Regions from separate parts of the Homo sapiens genome. Here region 2 is reported to be linked to region 1. The links are microRNA targets in miRTarBase. Many come from high-throughput screens and were not tested one by one. Region 1 holds a microRNA gene; the other region holds the end of a gene's coding sequence.

Region 1 (3,000 bases):
TAATATATATTTTTATTTATAAAAGTTCTGTTTCATCTTTTAAAAACCTGCTTGTTCAGTTTTCATAGTTTCCTGTTCTTTGCAGATACTTTTTATGTGGTCTTTTATTTTTTTACATAGGGGAAGCATAGTTGTTTTACAATCTGTATTTGACAGTTCCAGTATTTGCGGGTGTGTTTCTGATTCTGATTCATGGAACCTGTTTTTCCTTGTGTGCTTAATTGTGTACTACTCTTTGTTCTTAGGAAATATTAAGGAGGGAGAATCTTGAGGCCTAGGAAGATGATGATTCTCTCAGAGAGTTTATGCTTATGCTCCTGTCCGGCATGGACGATACCCCAGCCCAGGATCACCCCAGACCAAGCACATGACTTACCATGACTCCCAGGCCCACCTGGGCTAACTCCCCATGACCGTAACCACCTTGGTCATGATCACAGTTGTGGGTCTCTTACCACAACTTCTCATGGTGTTATTTTCCTTTCCCTTTTTCTCTTCTTCTGCTTAGTGTCAAGGCAACCATCCCTGAAGTTTCCCAGAATTGGGGGTAGAGGTAGGGTTTATGTATGGCACACACTCATCCTATGGATGTTATATCTTGGGGTCCCAGCTTAATATGCGCAGTGTCTTCTATAATATCCTCCACATTAGGTAGGCACTGGGCCTAGATTCTTCCCCCTTTCCTCCAGGGGCTGCCAAAACAGAAACCCAGATTAACTCATGGTGGAGATGCCTTTGGGCCAGAAGGAGCTGTGGTGTTCTACTTAGGTCTCTGGGTTCCTAGTTTCCCTTAGATTTTTATCCTGAGAGCTTCTTACTATCTTGTCACCTCTGATGCTTTTAAGGATATTTTTTAAGTTGAGAAGTTTAGTTGTTTTAAATAGAGAGCAAGGGGTTTGTCTGACTAGCCTAGCCTGCTGTGTCTGGGAAAGGAAGTATTAATAAGACCTTAAATCATTTAATAACTATCATCTAGTACTGAAAAAAAAACGCGTGCTATGCAAACATAAGGTTTCAAATGTGGTCAGTCAGGATTTTGAAAACTAGAATTTTCATACACCTTTATTTTACGTGATGCATTATTTTAATATTGATGTGAAGTTAAACAAGGTCAGTTTGACCTTGTGTCCAGTGCAATTCCCAAATTTGACTGCTGCAGTTTACTGAAATTGCATACATACAACAGCTTTAGGTGCCTGGATTCACAGTGAGCTAGTGAAATAGCTGGTGATTTCATAGTGAGCCAGTGAAATAGCCATCCTTCCCAAGCACCCACAGTGTACAGTTATGGTATAGAGGGGCCTTGATGGGCATGGCCTTTGAAAGACATGAAAGCTATAGATTAGCCTATATTGTTGTCTGGTATGTAGTAGGTAATAACTGACAAACAGACAATTGCCTAACATGTGCCAGAAAACAACATAGGCAAGGCTTGCAGTTACAAAATAATGCATAGACAAATGTACATTTAATCAAATTTGGCTGGCTTGAGGGAATGGTTGATATACACAGCACAGACTGATCAATTTGGTAGTGTTAAGCAGAAAATCGCTCTTATAGGACAAGAATCTTGTAAAATTTTGAACCTTAGAAATATGCACTAATGACAGTGTGGTGTAGGAATAGATAGTGATGGGGAGGGCGTCGAGACAGGTACAAATAAGTAGTGTGTGTTGATTGACGGGCATGTCCTTTTGGCAAAGAGAGACTCCACCAAGAAAGTGATTGGGAAATGAGCTAAGAAAAGTGTGAGAGAAGAAGACACTTCAGTTCTGACATTCAAGAAACAGCCCCACTCTGATTTGGATAGGGGCAAAGCCTAACTATAGATCATTTTTCAGCCAACTACAGAATCTTTTTAGCTTTCCTTGCTTCTTTTTCATTTGCTTTCTCTTTCGAATTTGAGGAGTAGATTGCAGTTTAACCACATGCTATGAGCTCAGGCCTCTTGGGTGGCCTCCCTGGGTCTTAGACCAAACCAGTCATTAGGCTTTTAGAGAATAATTTTAAAATGCCATCCCTTAATATTGTCAGGGTTGTTTGAACTATGAGAAGAAGATAATGAGCATGAAGCAGGACCTTTAGAGGACTAGGTTGTCTGGAGTTTGTAGTTAGTTGAAAGGCTACAGGGTCCATTTATTCCTGTAATTTTATTTGCCTTCCTGCTCTGATGTATCATTATTTGTCATCCATGGATATGGAATTCATTCTATCATTCAATAAAATGAATGCTGACTCTGTGCTGGCTGCTTTTCGAGGCCTTGTGAATATTCTCTGTTTGGCGATTATTGTAATGGCCTTTTGCCATCATGACCTGGCCTTTTGCCATCATGACAGCATCTGACATGTACTGACATGTACTGAATACTTAGAATGTACCAAGATCGCTTCCTTAGTCATCTTATTTAATCCTTCCAACACTCTCATTGGGTAGATGATTTTACCCTAATTTTCAAAAGGTTAAGCAGTTTACCCACGATAGGTAGTGAGAGTCAGGATCTGTGTGTGACTGGCCCTAATGCCTATGCTTCCTAAGTAATTTCCTAAGTAATCAAAGCTGCTTTTAAGATTAACTTTCTCCAAAGATGCAGGTATTGCTCATTCCTTTTTTATAGCTGAGTCACAGACATAATGAATACTGCCAGTGAGCTGCAGTGAAACTGTATCTTTAAAAGAAAAATGTTTTTTAGGTTTCTCAATTCCCATGTTTTTGCTGTTTGCGTGATACCCCTCTGTGGAAATTAACAAACCTTTTGCTGTTGGTTTTTCAGTAATATCTATCTACATAGAAAAACTTCACAGTGGAATCTGTTTGTGTAATATGTGTGAGAGAGAGAAAGACAGACATAATGCTGTCATGATTAGTAAGCCATGACCAAACTGTATGTGCACATACACACAGCTTCTGTGGGTCTCACTGAGACTAAATTTGGCCACACATTCCCTAATTTATTTTTACACAATTTCCCTGTTTCACTGTAGACCTTTTCCCTAACATCA
Region 2 (3,531 bases), not on the chromosome of region 1:
ATTGTTTTGTTACTGATCCCATGAAGAATTAGAAATTCTCACCATTTTCAAAACTGAAAAGTCCCTTAGCAGTTGTCCCATGCTTTGAATTGCTTTTTAAGCATTACGGTGAGGTGAGTGTAAGCCTGAGGATCTTACTTTCTGGTATACCATTTATTACAACAGATTTCTAAAACTCCTATTAAATAAAGTTGATGGCAGAATAGATTTCTGTCACACTTCACTATCGTGTAGTTTTTGTAACTATTTCTTTTCAAAATCTAGTCTTTTTAAAAATTTTTTTAGGAATTTAAAGCTCCTGGCCTGGCGCGGTGGCTCATGCCTCTAATCCCAGCCCTTTGGGAGGTTGAGTGAATCACTTAAGGTCAGGAGTTGGAAGACCAGCCTGGCCTACATGGCAAAACCCTGTCTCTGCTAAAAATACAAAAATGAGCTAGGCATGGTGGCACATGCCTGAAATCCCAGCTACACAGCAGGCTGAGGCAGGAAAATTGCTTGAACCCGGGAGGCAGAGGTTGCAGTGAGCTGAGATTGTACCATTGCACTCCAGCCTGGGTGACAGTGGGACTCCGTCTTCAAAAAAAATTTTTTTTCAACATTTAAACCTATTGTTTTAACCTTATTTTTATTCTTCCCACAGTGGAATCTCTAGCGTTGTCACTCATGGCTGGCATGGAACAAAGTTAAATGTCTTCAGCGTAATAAATATCTCCGACTTTGTCATCATACATGTACATTTCCACCATGTGCAGCTGAAAAGTGAAAATATTTTTATTTTGGTTTATTTGTAAAACTTGTCCACAGTCAGCCTGGCACAGTCGCTCATGCCTCTAATCCCAGCACGATGGGAGGCCAAGACAGGCAGATCACTTGAGCCCAGGAGTTTGAGGCCAGCCTGGGCAACATGGTGAAACCCGGTGTCTACCAAAAATACAAAATGTATCCAGACATGGTGGTGTGTACCTGTAGTCCCAGCTACTCAGGAGGCAAAGATGGGAGGATTACTTGAGCCCAGGAGGTCAAGGCTACAGTGAGCCATGATTGCACTACTGCAGTGCAACCTGGGTGACAGAGTGAGACCCTGACTCAGAAAGAACCACTTGCCCACAGTCCAGACAGATGGATTGTAGGTGGGTTTTCTGGAGATTAGTAGATACTGTATAGAGTTGTATACATAAAATTGTGTCAGTAGTACAAAGTGTATATAGGCTGTTTACTCTTACATTTCCTACTGTAAGATACAGATTTATGGTACTGATACCTTTAAATTATATCATATTTTGAAAATGTAATTACTGATATTCAAAATAAATTAAAGGACTTAAAATCATTTTATTATCCTTTTGCTGCTGTCCTACAGTCACAGAAGCTTTTTATATAGAGTTTTACATGTTGTCTTCCCTAAAAGTTGTCTTAGATGTAGCTGTCCTAGAAATGTTTATATTTTGGCTGGGTGTAGTTTCTCAAGCTTGTAATCCTGGCACTTTGAAAGACTGAGGTGAGAGGATTCCTTGAGGCCAGCAGTTTAAGACCTGCCTAGGCAACATATGAGACCCCATCTCTCCAAAAACAACTTAAAAATTAGCCAAGGGCTGGGCACGGTGGCTCACCCCTGTAATCCCAGCACTTTGGGAGGCCGAGGTGGGCGGATCATCTGAGGTCAGGAGTTCAAGACCAGCCTGGCCAATGTGGTGAAACCCCGTCTCTACTAAAAATACAAAAAAATTAGCCAGGTGTGGTGGCCCACATCTGTAATCCCAGCTACTTGGGAGGCTGAGGCAGGAGAATCACTTGAACCCAGGAGGCAGAGGTTGCGGTGAGCCTAGATTGTACCACTGCACTCCATCCTGGGTGACAGAGCAAGACTCCGAAAAAAAAAAATTAGCCAAGCATGGTGGCACATGCCTGTGGTCCCAGCTACTTGGGAGGCTGAGGTGGGAGGATCGATTGAGACCGGGAGGTCAAGGCTGCAGTGAACCATGATTGCATCACTGCACTCCAGCCTGGACAACAGAGCAAGACCTTGTCTCCAACAAAAAAAAAGAAAGAAAGAAATGTATATATGTTTTGTTGTGCCTGAGAAGTTCTACATGGAAAATAGCTTCAACTGATAGCGATAAATGTAAAAGGCCAACTTCACTTAGGGCCAACTGTTGGTACATACTATTGTTTGGTATTTCCTTGTTTTTTGAAATGTGGAGGCTCACTCTGTTACCTAGGCTGCAGTGCAGTAGCACGATCTCGGCTCACTACAACCTCTGCCTCCTGGATTCAAGTGATTCTCCTGCCTCAGCCTCCCGAGTAGCTGGGATCTCAGGCGTGCACCACCACGCCCAGCTAATTTTTGTATTTTTAGTAGAGACAGGGTTTCACCTTGTTGGCCAGACTGGTGTCGAACTCCTGGCCTCAGGTGATCCACCCGCCTTAGCCTCCCAAAGTGCTGGGATTACAGGCGTGAGCCACTGTGCCTGGCAATATTTCTGAGCAATTTTTGTGAGCTAACCAGTTATATTTTGAATAGAATTATGCTTACTATTAAATTTTTCCATATTTTCTTTTTATAGAGTGAGACTATCTTTAAAAAAAAAAAAGGCCACACATAGTGACTCATGCCTGCAATCCCAGCACTTTGGGAAGCCAAGGTGGGTGGATCATGAGGTCAGGAGTTCGAGACCAGCCTGACCAATGTGGTGAAACCTTGTCTCTACTAAAAATACAAAAATTAGCTGGGCGTGGTGGCACACACCTGTAATCCTAGCTACTCAGGAGGCTGAGGCCAGAGAATTGCTTGAACCTGGGTGGCCGGAGGTTGCAGTGAGCTGAGATCATGCCACTGCACTCCAGCCTGGGCGACAGAGCGAGACTCTGTCTCAGAAAAAAATAAGAAAAAGAAAAAAAATATGAAAGCTAGAACTGGAAACAACAAAATGTGGAAGTTAGGACTAGAAAGCTTCTAGAAGCAAACATGGGAAATTAACACTACAAACTTGGGGTAGACAAAGATTTCTTACATAAAATCAAAAAAGGGGCCGAGCACGGTGGCTCATGCCTGCAGTCCCAGCACTTTGGGAGGTCAAGGTGGGTGGATCACCTGAGGTCAAGAGTTCCAGACCAGCCTGACCAATATGGGGAAACCCCGTCTCTACTAAAAATACAAAAATCAGCCGGGCGTGGTGGCGCACACCTGTAGTCCCAGCTACTCAGGAGGCTGAGACAGGAGAATCGCTTGAACCTGGGAGGCAGAGGTTGCAGTGAGCCGAGATCACACCACTGCACTCCAGCCTGGGTGACAGAGCAAGACTCCGTCTCAAAAGGAAAAAAAAAAAGGAATTATTGGTGAATTGGACATCACCAAAAAACATTGCTAGGAAAATGGTAATACAGGCCACAGACTGGGAGAGAACATTTCCCCTTAGCCCCTTTCAGGAACCATGTCATGCCCAGAGGCAACCACTGTTGCCCAGGGTGTCCAGAAGTAACTATGTTCAGAGTGTATGAAGGCATTTTAAATTAGTAAGACAAGCTTTTTTT

Evidence for each region. The annotated mature microRNA hsa-miR-4774-3p reads AUUGCCUAACAUGUGCCAGAA and lies in region 1 at 1,395-1,415, shown strand. An mRNA with a match to its seed (bases 2 to 7 or 8) in the 3' UTR can be bound and repressed. Matches are read on the target gene's strand: a 7mer-m8 pairs with bases 2 to 8, a 7mer-A1 pairs with bases 2 to 7 and ends in A, and an 8mer does both.
Region 2: the mRNA of TUBGCP5 is a reported target of hsa-miR-4774-3p. Seed matches in the 3' UTR shown: 7mer-A1 at 985-991.

The regions. Positions count from the first base shown.
Region 1 is chr2:168,581,595-168,584,594 of GRCh38, forward strand. It overlaps MIR4774 (microRNA 4774), which reads left to right and starts at 1,349; the gene lies at 1,349-1,424. The region is part of intron 3 of CERS6 (ceramide synthase 6); the gene reads left to right.
Region 2 is chr15:22,996,976-23,000,506 of GRCh38, reverse strand. TUBGCP5 (tubulin gamma complex component 5) reads left to right here. Exons shown (of 23, transcript NM_052903.6): 23 at 641-1,330. The coding sequence ends at 687. Among named protein-coding and RNA genes, the nearest start is that of CYFIP1, 18 kb to the right of the region's middle.